4 linked regions of the Homo sapiens genome follow. The protein of the gene in region 1 interacts with the protein of each later gene in a pairwise test. Each region holds a gene or a part of one and is shown in the gene's direction. Other genes may lie near its edges. The genes, in order: ORC2, CTNNA3, RAD18 and MCM10.

Region 1 (3,184 bases):
GGCAGGAAGGTGAAGAATGATCTAAAGCACAATGAAAAAAATAAATACCCACCTACCCACCCTCTAGTTAGTTGTCTTTTCCACTATAAGGATGTTTAACTATAACTCCATATATTTAAGTATATATGACTGTGTGCCCTTTTGCCTTTTTATACTTATATATTTAAAAATTACATCCAAGAAATAAATTCATTTTTTCTTTAGCCTCTACAATAGAAGAGTTCATATACCTCTTATGAATGACTAACGTACAGGTATTCTTAAATCTTTCAGGGAACTGATGGAGTAGAGTATTTATTAATTCCTGTTGATAATGGAACATTGACTGATTTCTTGGAAAAGGAAGAAGAGGAGGCTTGAAGCTTTCCTTTATTCTTGAATCTCCCATGGAAGGGTTGTACCCCAGCTGCCACTCCTCTAGTTGAAAGTGTTGTGTTTACATCTGACATTAAATTATTTTTCCAGCATACAAGATTTAAATTTGGGAAGGGGGGGATGTCCTCAATTAGAACTTTTTGATCAGCCTGGCTGGTACCGTCTAGTACTATGCAGCGGTCCTCAAGTTGGAGAAAATGTGCCTTTCATTCATTACCTCTCTGGAGACTTCTTGCTGGAATGAACAGTGTGCTCAGGGACTATTTGGAACTGGATGTTTTTGAATTATTTTATACTTAGAGATATTCTGAATTTTTTGAGGGCCTTTTAACACTCCCCGAGCTGATTGTTTGCAAGTGTGTTTGTTCCAGAGTGTGGAAGTATAAAGACATGGGCATCACGTAAATTGGTTTTGTTTGCTATTCTGTGTGTCAGAACCAACGAGTGTAATGGAGAGGGCAGGTCATCTCTTATTGTTTCTAAAACAACTTAAAAGGTGTAGATTGGGAAGAGGTGAGTGATCCAGCTTTCTCCTTTTGGATTGAGGCTATGTACTTGGTGGGGGCAGGGGAGGGAATATATTATAATACTATTCAGTTGGGATAATGGGAAAAACAGAGTATATAGGGTATCTACCCAGCCTAGAAAGCACAGGAACAATACGTCATATATTTGGAACAGTTATTGTCTGTGCCATGACCTTCATGATACCAGTGAGAAGCCAGGCTAGAGAAATAAAATCCTGAATTACATTTTAGTAATTGTTTTCAAGACAACAAAAAATAAAACATTTCATTATTCTTGTATATTGACATATTTTTCTTTTCTTGAACAACATGCAGGTGAGTAGCATATTAATGGCTGGCTGTAAATTAATTTTGATTCCTCTGTCAAGTAGACCTAAAACTCACTGTAAGATATTTCAGTTTTTTCCTTAAAGTGATGATTTCAAACCTCCTGAATATTTGCGCGAGACTTTTTTCTTAGGAAAGAAAAAAGGCTCACCTTGGCTACTGTTGTCAGCTTACAGTCATCACATACCCCCTGAAATATTTGACACTTGGAAATGAAGTTCTTCCTGAAAATATCACTGCAATAAAATACGTACTACGTCAGCATTTCTCACTCATTTCTTATCTTGTAAACCTCTTTCATGAAAATATTTCCAAAAATCCTTGGAATTTTTAAATAATTTTTCTTGTGGCATATAATTAAGTAATTTTGGCCAGGCATAATGGCTTATGCCTGTAATCACAACACTTTGGGAGGCCAAGGCAGGAGGATCTCTGGAGCCCAGGAGTTTAAGAACAGCCTGGGCAACATAGTGAGACCTTGTCTCTACAAAAAATTTAAAAAATCATCCGGGCATGGTGGCCCATGCCTATAGTCCTAGCTGCTGTGGAGGCTGAGGCAGGAGGATCGCTTGAGCCCAGGGGTTCAAGATTACAGTGAGCTATGATTGTGCCACTGCACTTCAGTCTGGGTGCAGAGCAAGACCTTGTCTTTTTTTTTTTTTAAATCATTTTTTTAAAAAGTAATTTTATGTTAAGTCCATGGGCTTAGTCTTTTTTTTTTTTTTTTTTTTTTTAGATGGAATTGCACTGTCATCCAGTCTAGAGTGCAGTGGCGTGATCTAAGCTTACAGCAGCCTCCACCTCCTGGGTTCAAGTGATTCTTGTGCCTCAGCCTCCTGAGCTGGGACTACAGGCACACGCCACCACGCCTGGCTAGTTTTTGAATTTTTAGCAGAGATGGGGTTTCACCATGTTGGCCAGGCTGGTCTCGAATTCCTGACCTCAAGTGATCCTGCCTCGGCCTCCCAAAGTACTGGGATCAGGGGTGAGCCACTATGCCTGGCCAAGGGCTTAGTCTTAAATATAACCTCTAGTCAAAATGTTTAAACAAATTTGTACATAAATGTGATTTAAAAAAATTTTTTTAATAGTACCAAAGGATATTCAGTGAAAGTGAGTTTCCTGCCCACTCCCTGATCCACCCAGTTCTTTAGGCAACCACTGATAGCATTTTCTTAAGTATTCTTCCAGATATCGTCTATGCATATGTAAAAGTATCTGTCTTTCTCCTTTTAAAAACACAATTGGTAATATATCATACTTGCTGGTTTGCACCTTGCTTTTTTTGCTTAATATATCTAGTTTATAATGACCTAATGTGCAAATTTTTGCATCTGCCCTAAATATCTACTGGTTTATTTTTATAATTTTTGTGTCTATACTATTTGCAAGCAGTATGTGTCAGTAGACTTTATTATTAATAAATAAAAAGCCAATTTGGATAGAATCACTTTATAAATTGGTAGTGCTGGTTTTTTACTAAAAATATTTTTAAGTTCTTCAAAAGAAGTTTTATGAGTGCATCTTACAGATCTGGTGAAGATCTTGGCACATTATTGTATGCTGTTTGTTGACTTGTGTCCGCATCGGTGTCCCTGAGGCTCTAGCAATTATGTCTTGACTGATAAGGCTCTAATTTCTTCTACTGTGTTAACTTGCTTCTGGCAAGATTGAACAGATCTACTGAAACCTTGAAAGGTTTTCTGGGTACTCTTAATAAAATTGCAAAAAAAAAAAAAAAAAAAGGCACAGGAGATGTCAAACATTTATTGTTTATAAATTTGCCACAGTGCTGAATTTATTGTGCAAGGACTGCTAAATTAGTTCTCACAGTAGTCCAGAAACTGGACTTTCTTAGCATTGTTTGTTATTTTAATACATGATCACTTCACTCATATAAAAGATCAGTGGAGGCCGGGCGTGGTGGCTCACGCCTGTAATCCCAGCACTTTGGG
Region 2 (7,948 bases), on another chromosome or scaffold:
TCGTTTCTTTTTATGCTTTCTTCTCTAAACTTCCCTTCTCCCTTCATTTCATTCATTTCATCTTCCATCACTGATACACTTTCTTCCAGTTGATCGCATTGGCTCCTGAGGCTTCTGCGTTCTTCACGTAGTTCTCGAGCCTTGGCTTTCAGCTCCATCAGCTCCTTTAAGCACTTCTCTGTATTGGTTATTCTAGTTATATATTCGTCTAAATTTTTTTCAAAGTTTTCAACTTCTTTGCCTTTGGTTTGAATTTCCTCCTGTAGTTCGCAGTAGTTTGATCGTCTGAAGCCTTCTTCTCTCAACTCGTCAAAGTCATTCTCCGTCCAGCTTTGTTCCGTTGCTGGTGAGGAGCTGCGTTCCTTTGGAGGAGGAGAGGCGCTCTGCTTTTTAGAGTTTCCAGTTTTTCTGCTCTGTTTTTTCCCCATCTTTGTGGTTTTATCTACTTTTGGTGTTTGATGATGGTGATGTACAGATGGGTTTTTGGTGTGGATGTCCTTTCTGTTTGTTAGTTTTCCTTCTAACATTCAGGACCCTCAGCTGCAGGTCTGTTGGAGTTTGCTAGAGGTCCACTCCAGACCCTGTTTGCTGGATATCAGCAGCGGAGATTGCAAAACAGCGGATTTTCGTGAACCGTGAATGCTGCTGTCTGATCGTTCCTCTGCAAGTTTTGTCTCAGAGGAGTACCTGGCCGTGTGAGGTGTCAGTCTGCCCCTACTGGGGGGTGCCTCCCAGTTAGGCTGCTCGGGGGTCAAGGGGTCAGGGACCCACTTGAGGAGGCAGTCTGCCCATTCTCAGATCTGCAGCTGCGTGCTGGGAGAACCACTGCTCTCTTCAAAGCTGTCAGACAGGTACACTTAAGTCTGCAGAGGTTACTGCTGTCTTTTTGTTTGTCTGTGCCCTGCCCCCAGAGGTGGAGCCTACAGAGGCAGGCAGGCCTCCTTGAGCTGTGGTGGGCTCCACCCATTTCGAGCTTCCTGGCTGCTTTGTTTACCTAAGCAAGCCTGGGCAATGGCGGGCGCCCCTCCCCCAGCCTCGCTGCTGCCTTGCAGTTTGATCTCAGACTGCTGTGCTAGCAATCAGTGAGACTCTGTGGGCATAGGACCCTCCAAAGCATGTGCGGGATATAATCTCCTGGTGCGCTGTCTTTTAAGCCCATCGGAAAAGCGCAGTATTAGGGTGGGAGTGACCCGATTTTCCAGGTGCCGTCTGTCACCCCTTTCTTTGACTAGGAAAGGGAACTCCCCGACCCGTTGTTCTTTCCGAGTGAGGCAGTGGCTTGCCCGACTTCGGCTCGCGAACGGTGCACTGCACCCACTGTCCTGCGCCCACTGTCTGGCACTCCCTAGTGAGATGAACCTGGTACCTCAGATGGAAATGCAGAAATCACCCGTCTTCTGCGTCGCTCATGCTGGGAGCTGTAGACCGGAGCTGTTCCTATTCAGCCATCTTGGCTCCACCTTCTCTTTTCTTAACTGCTTCTTAGTAATCCCTGAGTGAAATGTCTATCCTCAAATACTGGAAATTCCTTAGCGTGTACCTGGGTGGCTTCATTGTCTTTCATTTTGAGCCATAGTCACCAATTATTGGCAACAGGAGAAGTCCCACTCAATATCCTATGTCATTTAAAGATCTCATTTGAAGCCATAGGTTAGGATGTGTTATCCCCTCAGGTGACAGAATGGTTTGGCCACCTGGAGGTTGTTGATAGACTTAAAAATGACCCTTTTGGGAGTGAAGGGGAAATAAATCATCTTAGTGGGTTGTGAAGTGAGAGGTAAAAACATAGGGGTGGTGGACAACTCATTTGGGAAGTATTATGATGAAGGCACAGAGAACTAAGTAGCAACCACAGGGAGTTGTAGGGTAAAAGTATGTTTTGTTTGTTTGAAAATTTTCAGGTAGAAGTCCTGTGGCATATTTTTGCACTGATCATTGGAGAAAGGGTGATAATGCAGTGTGTGAGGTGATCGTGAAGGAGCAGAGTCCTTGAAAAGGTGAGGGAAGAAGGGATCCAGCACACAAGAGAGATTAGCCTTTGGTAAGAGCAAGAGGACTTCTTGCATTTTAATAGGAGGGAGGGTAGAGAAGATGAGGCTCGGTGTTAGTGGGTTTATAGATTTGATGATGGAAAGATGTGAAACATCTTCCAGATGGCTTCTGTTCTTCTTAGTGAGGCAGGAGAGTTGGTTAGCTGCTAATAATAAGGATGGTTGGGAAGGGAGAGTGAGAAACATTTTTTTTTTTTGTATTAATAGTACATAAGACCTTCAAATCAGGGGCAGATTCATTTAGATTCACCTAAAATACCTGACAAGGTGCCAGAAGTATTTATCACATATTTTTGAAAAAAATGGTTTTAATTATCACAAACAGGGATTATTCCTAGCTTTAAATCTCATTTTAGAAAGGTATTATGGCTGTTCAGAAAATTACATATTTTTAAAGCCCGAACCTGAAATTGCCAGTATTTTGAGATATTATGGACAGATGAAATGGACTCATGGTTCATGCAAAAGTGATTTTCATTCTATAAGGGATTTTATTGACAAGAAGAAACTACTCCATTCTGACTAAAGAACATATTGCACCCTGGAGGATTTATTTTCCAAGAGAGGCTACTGACAGGGATAGAATTATCTTCTTTTTGGAGGCCTCCCTTCTCTCCTGTAATCTTCTAGCTGGCGCCTAACACAGGGCTCTGCATCAAGGGGCTTCTCAATACATCCAATTGAATGACTTTGTTTGGGGCCGGTCCTGATGCCCAGAACGAAAAAACTTACTTTTGATTACCTCGGGAGAATTGCTAGTAATGGCCCTGATTTATTCTCTCTCTTTTTTCTCTCTTTTTTTTTTCCCCAGCTCTTCTACCCTCAATGTTTGATTGCTTGCAAGAGGCATGTGAGCCAAAATTTTAAAGTTTGCAAAGTATAAAGAAAGGAAACAAGTAAATAGGGAAGGAGAATAAATACTGAACAAGACTGGGCAAGGTGACAAGAAAGAACTACTGTGAAAATCTGGAAGAGGGCCAGGATGCAAAATGCAGGGGCTGTGTAGTTTACAGGAACTATTTAGCCTCCAGCATGCCTCAGCGATCACACAGAGAAAGGCAGATTTCTCTGCTTTTGTCTCCTACCCTATAGTTAGCTATGGAAATTTGACATAGGTGATATATGTTTTCTGTCAGCAAACTGATACAAATACAGAGGACCATGGGGCCTGTGATCAACAAATCCAACGTGATTTGAATTGCTAGGAGGGGACCTCTTGTGGCTATAGTGGGAAATACTTCAGCTAAATACTACCTTGGAGGCTGCAGATATTTTTATGAAGGAATTAAAAAAAAACCCACTATAAAAGCTCTTTAAAATTACATTTCAGATATTTATAATATTTAATTGTTTTGATAACACCAAATTCTGTAAGAAGGTTTTATCTGTATTGCATCTCTGAAGAGTTCAGTGTAATTTAAAGCTCTTCAGCTTTTATCCATTTAATTCACATATCCTCTGAAAAGCAAATGAAAAGAATAAGAGTTCTCATCTACATTTTGTAGGTGGAAAGGAGAGGTACAGGGCAGGTAAGTAACTTATTGTGGTTTCACAGCAGGACAAGCTAGGCTTATGATAGAATTTGGATATCTCATCTTGGGCTCAATTCAACAGTCCTGGTTTGGAAAACATTCATTATTAAAGCTCTAAAACAAAACCTGCTATTTTGCAAGTGTCAAGTGATTTCTTTATTCAAGAAAAGATGGATTGAGAGACATAAAACTTACTCTTTGTTTCACTGTGAAAAGATGCTATTCCTAGATTCTCCAGGGGGAAAAAGCTGCTTTAAAAAAATCTGGGGAGGATAGCATGTTAGCAACTAAGAATCTTTAGATAAATATATTGTCAATTATGCCCATTTTAAAGGTAGCTACATAAAAATACAGTTGTTTTGAAGGCTATCCTGAAAATCATATAAAATGAACTCCTTTCATAGTTGATTCTCTGACAGTTCCCAGACCCTGCCTTTCCTCTTGGCTCCCTGAAATTTGTGCTAAGAGTATCTGGAGAGCCAATAAATAAATGCTTTCTTTTTATTTTGAATTCAGCCTTTTAAGAACAGGACTGCCAAAACTCAAACAAGTAGTTCATATTTTAGTTAGCACCTCTTGTTTTAGAAGCTATTAGAAGAAAGTCGGAAAAATGGTAATGTCCAAGGAAATGCCACAGAAGTTCGAGTGGGATGTCAAGGAATTGATGAAATGATAAAGATTGTTTCAGTGGATGTGAAGATATTGAGGGAGAAGATATCAAAAAAAAGGGAAAAGGAAATGTGAAAAAGAATAGTCATAGAGAGAAAAAATAAATTTTGGTGGAGAAGACTTTTTTTTTTGGTGGCTTAAATTTAATAATGGGTTAACCTATTGAGTTTTTGGTAAATCTTCAGTTTAGATTCTTTACTGATAATGATGTGGTTCCTCATAAATACTGGAAGGAGAGAGTGTGATGCTTGGTACAAGGGATGAGACAGGTAATATTTCAGAAGAAGAAAAATACGATCTCAGATGTGACACATGGCCTTGATGCCATCATCTCTAGGGTTCTGAAGACATTGAATTTTACATAATTGATCTTTTGATGTGAGGATTTCCTGGACTCTTGTTTTCCCTGCTTTATCATTTTTCACTTTCAATAATTCCAGCCTTTGGCTTTAATTAGATAGAAGAGGTTCTTCTTTTGGAAAGGAACTAGAGAAATGCAAATCTAAACTTATTCAGAGCTATGTTTGTAGGTCTCTAGGCAAAGTATGTGTCTGGCCTTTTTCAACGAAGTATTTTCAGTAACAAGTTGTCAGTGAGGTCAGTGACTAGCGGTTCAGGATTAGATACCACCCACCCTGGCTTGTAACCTCCCCTTTCTTTCTTATCCTGGGTGAACAACGCTCAGCGAAATTGACTGCCCCACTGTCATCTGCCTCTCAATTTGGTACTCTGTAACTCTGTGACCACCAAGAAGCCTTTTTCCGTCCCCCACAAAGCTCTTTTTGGAAAATTCCCTACGGGAGCTGAATTTTAAGCCCATTTACTTTATAGGAAGAAACAGAAAGGTAAGAATCAAGTTTGTAAAGAGAAGAGCTGAACTTCAGCGAATTCTCATTTCTGCATTGAATTCCTGTGTCTTAGTTATAATCATAGGTTTAAAATTTGGGGTTTTCTTCTGAACTGAGGAAGATCACATTATTGTATGAAATAGGAATGTTTTGACTAGTTATGAGAAACGTAGGCTTTCACGCTAATTTTAAAGTTATAAATAACTTTCGAACTATTGCCAGGGGAAGCTGGTAGCCAAGGTCGTGCTTTGCATTCAGAGAGTTTCTGGCTATAAAAAGCCGATTGGATACTGTGCAGGAAAAGATAAGATATGGCCTGGATGCTTGTGCTTTGGCATGGGAGTGGGGAAAAGGAAGCAAAGATGGAATATGTTTGAAGGGATTTTACTTTCAACCAAAAGCTAATTCATAGTAAATGGAAGATGTTTCAAGTGAGATAATGGCAAAAAGCATTAATTTCTGAATTTAATGTCTATTTGTTTTATAATTGGAAGGAATATTAAGAGGTTGAGGAATGCTCTCAGAACTGTTTGATGACCAGTTATAGTCAAATGAAAATCACTGTATGGAATGATCATGAGATGTAATGATCAATCATGTAAAGAAAAGGTCACTATCTAATGGGATCTGAATGATTGTGAGCAGCTGCTGTCAGTTACACGGAAGACAAATAAAAGAAATGAGTTCAAATGGAAACAAGAAGAAATTGGGGTTAGACATCAGAAAGTTCATTTACTGTAGAGGTTTTGAGTCACTGATATGTGCCTACTAAGATCTCTGGAGATAACGTGAGAATGCAATGATTTGCTTAAAACAAAGTGGAAAAAGCAGGATTTCAAGTTTGCATTGGTTCTGGGTTTGTGGCTAGCTTTTTAGACAGATTGAAAGCTCAACATATTGAGAATAGTTGTGATTTGAAGATTCAGATTATCCATGGTCAGATTTGAATGGCATATTTGAGTGTGCTATTAAAATTTCATTGTCCATTATAAAAAATTATCTCAGTAGAACCATAGGACAAGTTTGTTAAATGGAGAAACCTAAAATACAGACAGTATAGACAAAGTTATTCCCATTTGTTACCTCCTACACATAGTCTAAATCTTCCTATTTGAGTAAAGATTGGTAAAACTTTTTTTCATTATAAAAGCATTAAATGTTCATCGTAGGAATTTTGAAAGCACAGAAAAATATTTCCTGTAATTTCATTGATGTGTTTCCTTCTAGTCTTTTTTTTTCTAGATGGCTTTAAAAATAATTGCAATAATAGTATAGATAAAATTTGGAACCTTGCTTTTTCATTTAACCATATACCAAAACATTTTCCACAGAATATTACCTATTCTACAGTGGTGTTATTTTAAATTTGTGTAACATTTGTTCAAGTGAATGAATATAATTTTATTAATCATTGCTGAACATCTAGATGCTATGGTAAACATCTTTGTGTATTTATTTACTTATGTGTATATGTATGTTGTAGATATGTTTAAGATAATTTCCTTAATCTCTGTTTCTAACTGTAGAAGTGTTGGATTAGAGAACACTATGTTTGAAGGTAAAAGTTGTGATATTTAAGATGTGTTTTTACTGTTATTCTTTTAAAGCATTGTAAAATTCCTAGTCTACCAAATGATATATTTATTGTCTATGATGTGCAAAACATTGTTATCAGGCACATAGATACCAAAATACTTAGTGTTTAGAAGGATGGAATCTCTCCTACCTACAAAATTTCCACTCAATAAACTTTTACAGATATCAACAAAGCTACATGTCAGAGTTGAAAATACTTCAGCTCTGCCTGAAACCGATAGATAGTATTGTTGATCACTTACGTTACTTTGCACATGAAAATAACAGAATGTATAAGTAACTTTATTAGAAGACCATGTAGACATAGTGATTTATATGACTTTTATGATACAACTGTGACAAAGAAATAGGAATAGGAAGAATAAATTCTTTACTTATTGTGAATCTTTGGAGAAATTAGAAGTATTTGGAGAAAATCTGTAGGCAACAGACTAGAAAGAAAAGGGATAGAGGGCACATGCTAGAGGAGCAATTCAGTATTGGGTTTTTCTATAGGGAAAACATGAGAATGGAATTAGGCGTGGCTATGGTAGGAGTCAGAGAAGATAAGTTTTAATTCTGTCATTGTTGAGTTTGAGAACCATGTTGTGTAAATAGAGTAGAAGGAAGAAAGCTAAGGAATTAGTGATAAATACAACTAATTATTGGAAGTGGTTACTGGTCCCAAGTAATCAAAGTGGAGAGATTAGAGATATCAATATTATGTGGTGTGAAGTGAGAGGTAGAGTTATGAATTATCAAATAATATATTCTTCCTGTATTAAAAAACTTTTTAAATTGTGAAGTTTTTATTATTCAGTAATAATATTTAGAGAAAAACCATAGCTACAGAAGGATGGGAGTTTCATTCTCTATTCCCCATGAACTTCTGTTTGCATGTTTCTATTTTTTTTGGAATAGAAGGGATTAAGATTTAAGAAGAGAAGTTGGCAACCCAAACTGGCCTGAAGAGAAATTATGCGCTTTGTAATGAAAACTTGAAAATAGTGTTTATTTATGGATCATTGGCTCATGGGAATGCTAGTCTAGAGATTTAAAAAGTGTGATTTTCTGATTCTTGTTTGGATACTGGATTTTAAGTGAGATGGTACAGCGGGGTGGAACTCCGGAGTTTAGCAAAGTTGCAAATCTAATGGAAAGTGACAGATAATTGAGGCTGCAGAATTTTTGAAGGTGAACAGGACTGTTAGCCGATACATCTGATTTTTCACATGCTTAAATACTGTTTTTAACCACATTATTTTTGCCTGGG
Region 3 (7,047 bases), on another chromosome or scaffold:
TCCTTTTTTGTTTACATTTTTAAAATTCAGGTAATAGGTTCACATGGTTCAAAATACACATAAAATAAAAAGTAAAAGTCTCCTTCTTACCATGTTCCTGGCCCTGATCATTATTTATGACTTCTTGTTTATCTTCTCATTATTTACATTTACAATGAAAATAGAATGCATTCTTTTTTCCTTTTTTTCTTTTTTGAGATAGGGTCTCACTGTCGCCCAGACTGGAATGCAGTGGCAATCACGGCTCACTGCAGCCTTGAACTCCTGGGCTAAAGCAATCCTTCCGCCTCAGCCTCCTGAGTAGCTGGGACTACAGGCATGCGCCACTACTCCCAACGAATTTTTAAATTTTTTATAGACATGGATTTTTGTTATTTTGCCAGGCTGGTCTCAAACTCCTGGACTCAAGCAGTTCTCCTGCCTTGGCCTCCCAAAGTGCTAGGATTACAGAGCCACCATGCTAGGCCTATTAGAATACATTCTTACTCACCTCTTCCTTTTAAACAAACCGTAGCATAGTATATGTACTGTCTATACCTTATTTCCTTTTTTCACTTATCTTGGCAATCTTTTCATATCAGTATGATGGAGAGCTTCCTCTTTTTTTTTTTTTTTTTTGAGACAGTTTCACTCGGTCATGCAGGCTGGAGTATAGTGGTGCGATGTGGGCTCACTGCAACCTACGCCTCCTGGACTCAAGCGATCCTCCCGTCGAGAGCTTCCTCCTTTTAAAAAATATTTCTGTTGAATGGAATAATATTTTATTTTAAACAATTTGAAAGATTTTAGGTTGCCAGAGTAGTTCCGTTCCTGTTTGGATTGCATTCCAGGTTGGCACACATCTCTCTTTCCAAGTTGTCCACTTTCCCTTCCTCTGCTTTCACTGCCCCAGCTCTTTCCAGGCTTCCTCATTTGGCTGCATGTGTAGTACCATGCCGAAAGCACTGGACTGCCAGACGGGAGACAGGAATTTTGGTCTTGGCTTGACTGATGCCTACTATTGTGTGCCTGCTTTTGATACCAGTTTCCTCTTTTGACTAGACAGTTTCTGGAGTTTGGCTTTAACATTCTTTGATTTGATTCTTAACTTGTGTGGTGGCAATGGCCACCTTTCACCCAATAGTGACTATAGGCTAGGTGTTGGAGTCTGAAGAGGAGGAGGCTTGGAGTAAGAGCTGGAAGCGCATTAGAAGTGGAACAGAAGTACAGTAGCCCTTATGTGAAGGGATGACAATATGGCACAAGAATCGGTGTGCCATCATCTTTAGCTGTCTAAAGCAATTTGGGCAACCTGAGACTGAATGTATAAGAGTCATATGAGAGAAGTTTTTATTTATTTGTCAAGATCCCTTGCAGTTTATCTGGAGTTAGCTTTTGAATTTGTGTATTTGACAAAGAGTTTGATTTTTTTTTTAGGGGATAGAGAAAAAGTTTTGTGACAGGACTTCCAATTTTGATGTCTTTCTGATATGTATATATGCATATTTGCATTTCAGACAATAGATGATTTGCTGCGGTGTGGAATTTGCTTCGAGTATTTCAACATTGCAATGATAATACCTCAGTGTTCACATAACTGTAAGTATGTTTTGTTCCTGTGAGTTAGTAAATTGCGATTTTTACATGAGGTAGTGTTAATTTAACACCAAAGATATGTGCACATATTTATGTTTCACCTTTAGCTCTTCTATCTTGTAGTTTTTCAGAAGGTCTTTTTCACTGCCTTCCTCTTGAATATTGAAGGTTTTTACAAGGCTTCTATATTTTCTACCTCGTTCCTCTTTGATATTTTTATGATTCTTATAGCATTTATGGCAGTAAAATTTTTGGTCACAATAAGTGGTTCTTTATTTGCCAAGTGTTTTTTGACGTTAAGTTTCAGAATTTTTGTTTTTAACAGGATAACAGATAGGTGGTTCCACCAAGTAGTACTTGATATAGAATTTCAAAGTTTAAAAATCTGTAACAATAAGAATATTGCCCCAGTGGGAGAATTCTACCACTGACTTTATTACAGACAGTTTTATACCTTAACTGCTATGTGACGCTGGAAAGACTCATGTTGGAATTTGTTTGTACTTCTCTTTAAGAGTCTAGTATATAAGCATTTAAAAATATCGTACCTTAAGATATTTAGTGCATAGGGGTTACCCTATCATTGTTGAGGAGCTAGACATACAGTTTATGGGTTATTCAGGTTCATGATCTTTCTTGTCCTCTATTTTCAAGTTGATTTATCTTGGAAAGTTAAAAACAGTCAACTTAGGCCTAAGAAATTGGTTTTAGTTGGTAGTAGCTTTGGTGGAAAAGTTTCTGTGGAGAAGACATAGTAAGAGGGTAGCAGTGACGGCAGCACGGGCATTGCAGATGCCCTTGGGCTTGACTCTTGAAAATCGGGTGAGAATTTACTACTTTAGAAAATGTTTGTGAGAATTAAATGTGCAGAACTCACTGTCCGGCACATTATGAGTCCTTAACAATGTTAGTTTTCTTCCAGACAAGATTCACATTAAAAACCAAGATAAGTTTTGGAGATTGTTTTAAAATATATTTTAACATCATCTTTATTTGGGTGTAATTTACATACAATAAAATACATCCATTTTAAGTGCACATTAAGGTATAAAAGTGTTCATGAATTTTGACAAATGTGTATGCTGTGTTACTACTGCAATTAAGATACTGAACATTTTCATTATCTGATAAATTTCTCCCCATCTCAGTCAGTATGACCTCAGCTAGCCATCTGTAGTCTATTTCTGGACTCTTCTATTCCATTGATCTTAGAAACTTAGTAGTTTTTCACCAAAACTACTGCCCACTAAAACCAATTGTTTAGGCCTAAGTTTACTGTTGCTTTAGCTTTCCAAGATAAATCAACTTGAAAATAGAGAACAGGAAAGAGCATGAACCTAAATAATCTGTAAACTGTTTGTCTAACTCCTGAACAATGATAGGATAACCCCTATTGCAGTAAATACCTCAAGGTACAATATTTTAAAATGCTTATATGCTAGACTCATATATGTCTATCCTTGTGCCAGTACCACACTATCTTGATTACTGTGGCTTTGTAGTAAGTCTTGAAGTCAGGCATTGTAAGTCCTCCAACTTTTTTTTCTTCGTTTTTTTTAGGATCGTTGCATTTTAAATGCATTTCCATGTATAACTTAAAATCAGGTTGTCAATTTCTACCAAAAGCCTGCTGGGATGTTCACTGGAATTGTATTGAATCTAGAGATCAATTTGGGAGAATTGACATCTTAACAATGCCGAGTCTTCAGTGTATGAATATGATACACTTCTCTATCTTTATTTCTCTCAACAGTGTTGTTTGATTTTCATTGCACAGACCTTGCACAAAGAAATATAACTTATATTGACCTTTCGTCTTCTGACTGCAGTAAATTCACTTTAATTCCAGCATCTTTTTTGTTGATTCCTTAGAAATTTTTGCATACACAATCATGTCATTTGTGGATAAAGACAGTTTTACTCATTCCTTTCTGATCTATATGCCTTTATGTTTCTTTTTGTTACACAGGCTGGTACCTCAACTACAGTGTTGAAAGTGGTGTGGAGGGACATCCTGTCCTTACTCTTAATTTTTTGGGGAAAGCATTCAGTCTTTTACCATTAAGTATGATGTTAGCTGTAAGTTTTTTTTATATTCTTAATATGTTTTCATAAACCTACCAAGTTGAGGCACTTCTCTACCCCTGGTTAGGCGAGAGGATTTTTTTTTTTAAATCATGAATGGGTGTTGAATTTTGTCAAGTATTTTCTGCAGTTATGGAGATGCTCATATGATTTTCTTCCTTTATTTTGTGACATAGCTAATAACGTTGTTTTTGTTTTGTTTTGTTTGGGAGACAGGGCCTCACTCCCTCACAGTGGCTTTGTTACAGACTGGCTTTGTACTGTAGTCCCCCCTTATCTGTGATTTCAGTTACCTGTGGTCAACTGCATTCTGAAAATACTAAATGGGAAATTCTGGAAATAAATAATTCATAAGTTTTAAATTGCACTCTGTTCTAAGTAAAGCACTGATGAAATCTTGTGCCGTCCTGCCCAGGATGGGAATCATCCCTTTGTCAAGTGTGTTGATGTTACATATGCTATCTACCGTTAATCGTTTAGTGACCATCCTGGTTACCAGATTGACTGTTGCAGCATGGCAGTAATTGTCACTGTGTTGCAGAACACAGTAATTGTGTCAAGTAGCGCTTATTTTACTTAATAGTAGCCCCAAAGCACAAGAGTAATGATGCTGGCAATTCGGATATGACAAAGAGAAACCATAAAATGCTTCCTTTAAGTGAAAAGGTGAAAGTTCTTAACAAGGAAAGGAAAGAAAATTGTATGCTGAGGTTGCTAAGATCTACAGTACCATCTACAGTACAGCACAAGATATTTTGAGAGAAAGACCACATTTACATAACTTTTGTTATAGTATATTGTTTTAATTCTATGTTATTGTTATTGTTCCTAATCTCTTACTGTGTCTTATTAATAAATTAAACTTTATCATAGGTAAGTATGTATAGGAAAAAACATAGTATAAATAGGATTCAGTACTACCTGTGGTTTTAGGCATCCACTGCGCTTTATGGAATGTCTCGCCTGTGTATAAGGGGGCACTACCATATAGAGAAAGATCTTTACTAGTCAGCTTGACTGCAGATTCTAGGGGCTTCGTAAGCCTTTTCTGTGGATGTGTCTTCCCTGGACTTGTGATTATAAATTTCCAAGCCGAGAGATTTGGTCAGTTTTTTCATTAGCTGCTGTTTTTCTCTCTCATGTGTCTGTCCATGGTATTGCAGGTTCTCCAGAGTTGCTGTAAGCCATCAGCCTCTTTTTTTGTTTTCAGCTGCCCTCAAGCATCTAAAGTATGCTGATCCAAAGCACCCCAAGTTGAGTGAGACAGAAACCATTCCCTTAGGCAGTCCTTTGAAAAGTTCAAATGTTGGTCACACACTCCACTATTCTCTCCCAGCCTCCCCTCCCAAGATAAGCCGCAGAGCTATATCAGCCTCTGTCTGCTCTATGGGTCCTGTGGATCAGTAGCAAGCAACCCAGCTTTTTTTTATTCTTAGCAGTCCCCAGTCACCTAGAACATGCAGGGTTCATGCTTAGTGGGGTGAGACAGAAGCCAGTCCTCTGGCCAGCTCTTGGAAAAGCTAGAACATTGGACCGTGTTTCCCTTCTTTCTCTCCCCAGGCAGAAAGTTGGGGGTTTCTCTTCCTTGCTGAGCCTGGGGGAGGCACACTGGCCAGTGAGTGTGGTACTAGTCCAGACCTTTGCTTTTGTTCTCAGTGGCCCTCAACCTGGTTCCCTTTTCTGTCAGTGTATAGATTCAGGCAGCTCAGAAACCAGTTTCTCAAGTAGCCCCCGCAATGTAAGTGCTAGTCTTCTGTTTCTCTCCCTAGGGATACATGTTGTTTGCTCACTTCTTCATGACTTATAGCTGTCACTTATGCCATTCTTTAAGAGGAAGTCAGTGGAGGGAAGTTTCAGTAATGATGATTTTTTATTTTATGAGCACTTTTTTTTCACTTGTGAAGTCTCAGTATTCAGTAGGCCTCTTCTACTAAACACCAGTTGTCACAAGTCCCGTCATGTCTAAAATTTGCTCTGGGTCTTTAGTGTTTTAATGACACAAAACCCCCAGGGCTGTAGTGGAAGCCAGGTCTGTCATGTTCTGGTATCATCTTGGATTGACTAGAATTGGTGATCCAGAATCCTAGGTATTTATTGTTGCTTCTTAGATTTTTCATGATTTATCATTTTTAAATCACTTTATTTTGTTTTGTTCTGTTTAGGTTTTTGGATATGAGTAATAAACACTACATTTGTAGTTCTGCAGGTACAAAGGTGTGAGTGGGGTGCCTTGGCAGAATGCAGGTCAATTAAATTGATCCAAATTTGTGCTATTAAAGAGTATTTTGGGGGCGAGAGGGAGCAGACTTACTCCAACCCATAAAACACCATTAAGTGAGAAATGGTCTTGCTAATAGACTAATATGCCCAAGTGCCAATTTTCTTTGCACTTGCTATAATTTTTCTCACTTCATAATGGAAGATGATCAAAATATTTAGCAATTGGCTGGCTTTCAAACATCAAAAGAGTCTAGCATCTTAATAGTAAAAAGGAAATTTCTAAAACTTAAATGAATCCTTGTCATGTGAAATCTTAAGGACTTTATGAAAGAAGGAACTTTTTAGAAAGAAACATCTAAAGTGTCCAGTTAAAAGCAAAAACCAGTGTGAAAAGAACAGGAGGTCCAAGAAAGCTGAAAAGGTTGGCATCTGCCTCCAGTTCTAATGTTAAGGGACAGTTAGTTGGTAAGAGAATAACATCCCTCCAACTAAAGACTAGCATTTCAGAATTTCCAGAAGTGCAGCTCTGCATAATTATATCTCCCTTTTGTGTGTGTAGCTATTTCTCTTCTCCTCTGCCTTGTTTCACAGTGCTACTTCATGAGAATATAAAAGAAGATAAACACGTTTATTATTTGCCTAATAGAATCTTATGTTGTCTCTTGAATTAGCAAAGGTTTCGTAAGGGGAACATTTCATATTTCAGTTTGTTTTAAAAAATGAAATAAAATTGCTTTTTACTTCTACACAAGCTTTGATTAATTTTTTTTGAGTCAAAATCCACAAAAGGAAAAAAAAAAAAGATTGCTGGCCAAGCTTTAAAATAGTGGTAATTTATCAGTGTCCACAAGCCAATTATTTTATCTAGGATCTTGCTTGGGATTAGAGATGCCCCCTCTCCCAAGGCTTGGATATTTCTGTGAAACTACTCTTTAATTCATTGTTGTTATTGTACCTTCCTCCACTCTGCCCACACATCTTTTTTGGGCTCTCTTGGATGGAAAGACAAATTTCATAGGTGATTTAAATGAAGCCCTCTGGGAATACATGAATTCAAAACTCTTCAGCTGTTCTTCTTTGAATGGAAGGGTTGTCATAGTTGCCCACTAGAGAATAAATTATGCTGGTCTGCAGCTTACCAGTACATATTTGGTAGTAGTCTAGTAG
Region 4 (7,305 bases), on another chromosome or scaffold:
ACCAGCTGTATTGATGTCCATTATTATCTCTGCCCCATACTCAGGTGAGGAAGAAAGCATTTAAAAAATGGACACCTTGCTGCCAAAATGGCACGATGAACAGGATAACAAGTTTCTTGAAATATGAAATCTGTATCAGTACGATACTTGTACTCATAAAGATCAGCCATATCTTTCTGCAATGTCCGGGCTTCCGGTCTAGCCAAACTGGCTTGTAGGGAAAGCTTCTTTAATGCTGACCTTCCCTCATATTCCTCCGCTAATGCATTGACATCTCTAATATCCCACCCAGAGAGGAGTTCTCGCATCTGCTTGGCATGATCGGCAGACCTATCAGATTTTCGAGGCTTAATTAAGTTCTTTTTGAAGGTAGCAGGGCCAGAGGTCTTTTTTTTTTTTTTTTTTTTTTTTTTTTTTTGAGACAGTCTGGCTTTGTCGCCCAGGCTGGAGTGCAGTGGCTCGATCTCGGCTCACTGCAAGCTCTGCCTCCCAGGTTCCCGCCATTCTCCTGCCTCAGCCTCCCGAGTAGCTGGGACTACAGGCGCCCGCCACCACGCCCGGCTAATTTTTTGTATTTTTTAGTAGAGACAGGGTTTCACCATATTAGCCAGGATGGTCTCGATCTCCTGACGTCGTGATCCGCCCGTCTCGGCCTCCCAAAGTGCTGGGATTACAGGCGTGAGCCACCGTGCCCGGCCTCTTTTTTTTGTCTTGTGGTTTCTCATGGCCATGGTCAAGGCTATACAATTTTGATTCACAACCATAGCCTTGCTGAGAATAGGATGACGTCCCTATAAAAGTCTGTTGGGCCTGTGAATTTCCCCCTACCTTCGCGGAACATGGATGAGGATAATGAGATGCATTAGCACCCATTTTCTTCAGTCATTCAGGCATTCCGTCTGCGGGTTCTTCAGAGTATAATCCTAGAGGCCATTAGGAACCTTCAACCCTGGATCCAGCAGCCTCTTTCCATCTATTTCTATGAGAACAGGGCCATTAGACCTTACTTTAGTGCATACTATTGAAGTATGAAAGGCTGTGGGCAGCCAGACACACGGACAGTGCATTCTGTAAGAACCACACAGCAAGCATCCTCAAGTGTTTACTATACAGTCTGCCCTTCGTATTCCGTAGGTTCCTCATCCACAGTTCAATCGACCTGGAGGCTCCTCCCGCCGCCGCTGCTGCTGCTGCCGCAGGGACCTCGGCCGTCGCCCCCGCCGCCTCCGCCACCAGCACCGCGGCAGGCACCGGCGCCAGCACACCGCCGCCATCCTCCTCCCACCGCCGCCGCCGCCCTCTCCTCTCCTGTCAGTGGCTCAGGCTCCGGGACTGCTCCAGTTTTCCCTCGCCGCCATTTTGATTCCTAGAGGGAGCAGGAAGGGCTCGGCTTGGACTTTTTGTGTTTTTTTTTGTTTTTTGTTTTTTTGAGGCGGAGTTTTGCTCTTGTTGCCTAGGCTGGAGTGCAGTGGCCGATCTCGGCCCACTGCAACCTCCGTCTTCCGGGTTCAAGCGATTCTACTGCCTCAGCCTCCCGCGTAGCTGGGATTACAAGCATGCGCCAATACTTCCGGTTCATTTTTGCATTTTTTTTAGTAGAGATGAGGTTTCACCATGTTGGCCAGACTGGTCTCGAACTCCTGACCTCAGGTGATCTGCCAGCTTCGGCCTCCCAAAGTCCTGGGATTACAGACATGAGCCACCGTGCCCGGCCCACTTTTAATACATTAAAGGGGTCTGTGATAAACATCCTCCTACCGCCCAAAAAAGGTTAAGGACCACTGCAATATGGGCTGTTTGCTTTAGATTTCATTTTAGATAGATGTTGATAACTGTCAGAGCTGTTCTTTTTTGGCCTTCGTTTGTATTCTAAGGAGAGTCCAGGCCTCTCCTTAGAACCCCAGATCTGGAGATCAAGCTGGCTACCGTGCCTTTCTTAATCAGCATCTCTCATACATCTCATTCTGAAATAGAAAACTAAATCTATCTTCTCCCCTAAACCTGTTCCGTTCTTCCTATGTCTCCTACTTCAGTGCACAACCTCAAAAACGACCCTATTGTATAAATCAGAAACCTAACAGTCATCCTAAACCTGTCTCCCCATCCCCTCTCTGCTTCCTTCTCGCTAATATCTCCACATTCAATGGATGTTTTAAAAATATAAACTCAAGATTTTATTGTCTTCATAATAAAAGAAAACATGACACTTAGAACTGGATCACTTGGCCGTTTCTCTTCTTACCTCCTCCCAGTTCAAAATGCTAGCATATTTTAATAGCCAGCACTCTCTTAGAGCTGCAGCTGGGCTCAACGCACTCAAGCCTTGGCACAATTTTCTGTAGTTTTAGCCCTTTCCTGGAAAATCGGCTTAATTTGCCCACGATAGCCACTCTGCTTCCTGTCATAACGCCGCTTTCCCTGGGCATACAGAGAATCCTTCTCCTTCGTGTACAGTGTCACTTTGTGGGGTTGGTGCTTGCCACACTTCTTATAGAAAGTCTGGCGGGTTTTAGGAAACTTCGTAATGTTTGTGTGAGCGCTATCGGCACGGAAAAGCCACATTCAATGGATTTTAAAAAATCTATTTGCCTAATTGTTTCTCAAAATCACCTCCACTTCTTTTCTCAAAGTCACCACTATACTAATTCCAATAAAAAGTGCTTGATTCTTCACTTAAGGAAGGTTTGCGGGCTTAGGTTGGTTCTGTTTCTGACTCCTTGCCCGGAACTGGATGCAAAGAGGACCTGGAAAGTGAAGGTGAAGAAAAGAACTTCAGAGTACTGATCAGAATTAGTCAAGGAATTTCTGCATAATGGCTAAGAATAAATCTATGACGAATCTTTTTTTTTTAATAACTAGATGTAGTGATGCATTTATTTATTTATTTATTTATTTATTTATTTATTTATTTAGACAGAGTCTGGCTCTGTCGCCAGGCTGGAGTGCAGTGGCGAGATCTCGGCTCATCACTGCAATCGCCACCTCCCAGGTTCAAGCGATTCTCCGCCTCAGCCTCCCAAGTAGCTGGGATTACAGACGCGCACCACTACGCCCAGCTAATTTTTGTGTTGTGTGTGTTTTTAGTAGAGATGGGGTTTCACCATGTTGGCCAGGCTGGTCTCGAACTCCTAACCTCGTGATCCACCCACCTCGGCCTCCCAAAGTGCTGGGATTACAGGGGTGAGCCACCGTGCCCGGCCTTAGTGCCGTATGTTTAAAAGTACGCATTTAAACATACTTTTTCAATTTGATTACTAGAGTTCCTCCATTACTATGAATTTTTAACACTAGCAGCTCTCAGAAATGGTTGTATTCCTATTCCTGAGCCAATATAGGTTTAAGTAATAGGGCTGAGCTCATAAATGGAGCAGTAATATTCCATTAGGACACAGAAAAAAGTCAACGTAGATGGCATCAGGACTGTTTATCTTCAGTCTTCCTAAAGTCGATTTTAATTGTTCTGAAAATGAAAGTACGTAGTGGATAGAGATAGGATCTTATACCAAAGGGATTATTAGTGGGGGAACTGCAGTGCCTGAACAGTGTCTGCAAGGAGGAAAAGGGGGGAAAGACTTAAAGTGGCCATTTGGTCCATCAAAGTCTCTTCTGCTATCAATCCCTTGAAATTATGTAAAAGCTAAATGTTATTCTGCATTTAGAAACTATGTTCTTAGTATTATGTACAAACACTATTTTTTAGAATGTAAATACATAAAGAGGCCTGAATTTTACTGAAAAAAAAATCTGTGAAAGATATGGTCTGCTGATAAGTTCTCTTCAGCCCTGACGCCCCTTAGAAGTCCCAAAATCTATGGAACAGGAATTACTCGGGAAATGGTGGTTTCAGTGTAAAAGATGTCATCTACCCTTTCCCTCACTGCACAGATGGTGAAGGGGAAACTCAGAGAGATAAGTCACTTCCCCAAGGTCAGACAGGGTAAAAGTGGACCGGATCTGTTTGGTCCTGAGCCCAAACATTTCGAATGGACATAAGGCTGACAAAGGAACAGTCGGTCCCAGAGCGTCAGGAGTTGAGGTGGGATGGGACCGCAGGGAAAATACTGGGTGGGATGACTTAAACTTCCCGGCACCAGGGGGCGCCAGACACTCTATTTTACCTAAAGGAGACTGGCTTCTACCGACAGGAAGGTCCCTTGCCCCCAACAAAGAGGGCGTCCAATGACGTAAACCAATCCGATTGCTCTGTGCCAGGGCCGGGATTCGCTGGCGTAGCCAGTCAGTGCTGCCCCACAGCCGCGTGCGTCTGACGTCAAGGCAGGGGCGGGATCCGGTTGGAATTTTGGCGGGTTCAGCTGTGAACGAAGAAGGCGTCCCGGCATCGGGTGAGGAGCGCGGGCCCCGGGCGTGCGTGTGACCCTCGGGCGGCGGGGCCGGGGCCGCCTCGCACGTCTCTGCGCGGGTTGCAAGGGGTCCGAGGCTAGAGGCGCGGGGTCCCGGGAGCTCGGGTGGGCGCGATCTGGATTTGGCGGCAGCTTGGGACCGCTCGGAGCTGGCATGGCCGGGCCGGGGGCTGGGAGTTGCTGGCCGTCTACTAAGGAATCGGGTTCTTCCTTTTAAACGCAGCCTTTTAAGTGCTTGCCAAGTGCCTGCCGCCTGGGCTTTCTTTTATTCATTCATTCATTCATTCATTCATTGGTTTCTCGTATTCATGATTTGCCAATGATTATTGAATGCGGACGGTGTGCATGGCTCGGATCACATTTCCGCTGCCTTCACAGCGCTTACAGTTTAAAGGCACGAGCAGGTAGTAAACAAATGCACGACAGTGGACGACTCAGGGTGGTCCAGAAAGTCTCAGAAAGATGAGTAAGTGGAGACCGAAGGGCGAGAAGGACCTGGGGGGAGCTTTCTTCGACAGAGCCTGAGACCTCAAAGCAGCTTAGTGTGTTCCAGAAGGTGGAAGCGGGCTGGCCCGGCTGGAGCATCGTTATGGGTGTCGGGGTGGGTAGAATTGGACGTGGTGGATTGTGGAAAATGTGAGGGAGTAGAAAGCTTGGAAAGAGAGAGAGAATATGAATCATTGCCTCGCAGGCTTTGTAGATTTTTTCTAAGGGCAATGGAAAATCATTAAAGAATTTCAATGAAGGGACCCCCATGATCTGATTTATGTTCCTAAAGGTTACTAAGGAAAGGGAAGATTACCGTGGCTGTCGTATGCAGAACAGATTGCACGGGGACAAAGAGACCAACATAGAAAGCTAACACAGTCATTGGGTTAAAGGTTGACGGTGGCTTGGCCTAGGGTTCTGGCAGTGAAGTTGGAGAGAAGTGGCAGATTTGAGCAGTGTTTTGGAGATGGGACCACAGTACTTGTCAGTGGCCGTGGATTTGAGGGCGAGGGAGGGTGCACAGTTTCATTTTGGGGGAAGGCAAGGCCGGTTACAGACTTGAACGAGACAGTTTGCTCCTAACGCTCAGGAAGCTTACTGTCCAATAGGTTCCCCAGTAGATAGCACAGTGTGTGGCACATGAGGGATCCGTGGAAATGTTGGTTGAATGAATTTTTAAAAAGCGGCCAGGCGCGGTGGCTCACGCCTGTAATCCCAGCGCTTTGGGAGGCCAAGGCGGACGGATCACCAGGTCAGGAGATCGAGACCATCCTGGCTAATACGGTGAAACCCCATCTCTACTAAAAATACAAAAAATTAGCCGGGCGTGGTGGCGGGCGCCTGTAGTCCCAGCTACTCGGGAGGCTGAGGCAGGAGAATGGCGTGAACCCGGGAGGCGGAGCTTGCAGTGAGCCAAGATCGCCCCATTGCACTCCAGCCTGGGTGACAGAGACTCCGTCTCAAAAAAAAAAAAAAGCACCTTTGGGAGTCCAAGGCTGATGGATCACTTGACATCAGGAGTTCAAGACCAGCCTGGGCAACATGGCGAAACCCTGTCTCTACAAAAAACACAAAAATTAGCCGGGTGTGGTAGTGCACGTTTGTAATCCCAGCTACTTGGGAGGCTGGGGCAGGAGAATCACTGGAGCCTGGGAGGCGGAGGTTGTAGTGAGCCAATAGCACCACTGCACTCCAGCCCCAGCGACAGAGCGAGATCCTGTCTAAAAAAAGAAAAGAAAGTACCATAATCACTGTAATTAGTTCCTTGACATTGAACTTGCCAAAGAGCACATGTAAGTTAAATAAGAGCCTAGAAAAATGTATACTTTCTTACTTGCAGTTTAAAAAATAACCTTAAATGAAAAGAGAAGTGCACAAAGTGATACAACTTTGTCTTAATTAGCTACGCTGTTTCTCTGTGCTTTGCTGACTAGTATTGAATCAAAATCCTGATTGTCACTAAGGCTCCACCTAAGTAGAATCATACAGTAAGCTGTCGTGGATAACGCAGATGTCAGGTGTATTACAGTGAATAAAATGAAAGAATAGCCTAATGTAGATCGACCCCAATAATTTGTGTGTGTGTGTGTGTAATTTTTAAAAAAGACAAGGTCTTGCTATGTGACCAGGCTGGTCTCAAACTTCTGGCCTCAAGTGATGCGCCCACCTTAGCTTCCCAAAGTGCTGGTATTACAGGCGTTGAGCCACTGTACCTAGCCAACCCCAATAGTTCTTCCTCATAATTTATCTCATCCACGTAATCTAGTGTGATTTACAAACTGCTCTGCAGCTCAATAACTTTCTGTAACCTTAAACACAAGTAAAAGTGAGCTGCTACATCCAAGGAAGGAGATGGCATTGGCGGTGTGGAGAGAGGAGGTGAGAAATGGTCAGATTCTGGATGAATTCTGAGGTTAGAGCCCATAGGAGTGGTAGGATTCTGGGTTTGTTGGATGTGTGTTGTGAGAGAAAGAGAAGAATTGAAAGTGACATTTCTAATATTGCTTTCACACAGCCAAGATTCTACATTGCTCATCTGGGCATCTGAGCCTCCTTCGAAGTTTCCTGTCACAACTGTCCTCTTGACAGCATGGATGGTAAGACCTGGCAGTTTTCTGTTACTCTGTTTCAAGGAAAACTAACCTTTTGTCCATGGACTTGTTATTTATTCTACCTGTAAAATGGTGAAAATGCTCCCCAGCCCTCAGGTATTGTCTTAGTGGTTCTGAAGCAATCTCACATCTCACAGAGGTCACTGAATGTTACTTGCTTTTATCAGGGGAGATTTCTTCTGGCAACAGAGATTGTCTTTCATAATTACAATAGCTGGTAGGTGTACAGTGGGCCAGGCACTGCTCCAAGATCCTTGTGGAAATTAACTGATTCAGTCCTCAGGCAAACGTATTTTATAGGCAGAAAAACAGGGATGTTTAGTAACTTGTCACAGTTCAAGCTG

What was found.
Region 2: the proteins of ORC2 (region 1) and CTNNA3 interact in binary tests that used the Homo sapiens proteins (3 or more experiments, as listed by UniProt).
Region 3: the proteins of ORC2 (region 1) and RAD18 interact in binary tests that used the Homo sapiens proteins (3 or more experiments, as listed by UniProt).
Region 4: the proteins of ORC2 (region 1) and MCM10 interact in binary tests that used the Homo sapiens proteins (3 or more experiments, as listed by UniProt).

The regions. Positions count from the first base shown.
Region 1 is NC_000002.12:200,908,477-200,911,660, reverse strand, and holds the end of ORC2 (origin recognition complex subunit 2), read left to right. Parts: intron 1-273; coding exon 274-360; 3' UTR 361-2,684; downstream 2,685-3,184. UniProt on the Homo sapiens protein: Component of the origin recognition complex (ORC) that binds origins of replication. DNA-binding is ATP-dependent. The specific DNA sequences that define origins of replication have not been identified yet.
Region 2 is NC_000010.11:67,693,149-67,701,096, reverse strand, and holds the start of CTNNA3 (catenin alpha-3), read left to right. Parts: upstream 1-4,901; 5' UTR 4,902-5,097; intron 5,098-7,948. UniProt on the Homo sapiens protein: May be involved in formation of stretch-resistant cell-cell adhesion complexes.
Region 3 is NC_000003.12:8,953,451-8,960,497, reverse strand, and holds part of RAD18 (E3 ubiquitin-protein ligase RAD18), read left to right. Parts: intron 1-1,496; coding exon 1,497-1,578; intron 1,579-7,047. UniProt on the Homo sapiens protein: E3 ubiquitin-protein ligase involved in postreplication repair of UV-damaged DNA. Postreplication repair functions in gap-filling of a daughter strand on replication of damaged DNA.
Region 4 is NC_000010.11:13,157,264-13,164,568, forward strand, and holds the start of MCM10 (protein MCM10 homolog), read left to right. Parts: upstream 1-4,294; 5' UTR 4,295-4,343; exon of another isoform or gene 4,344-4,962; intron 4,963-6,864; 5' UTR 6,865-6,939; coding exon 6,940-6,946; intron 6,947-7,305. UniProt on the Homo sapiens protein: Acts as a replication initiation factor that brings together the MCM2-7 helicase and the DNA polymerase alpha/primase complex in order to initiate DNA replication. Additionally, plays a role in preventing DNA damage during replication.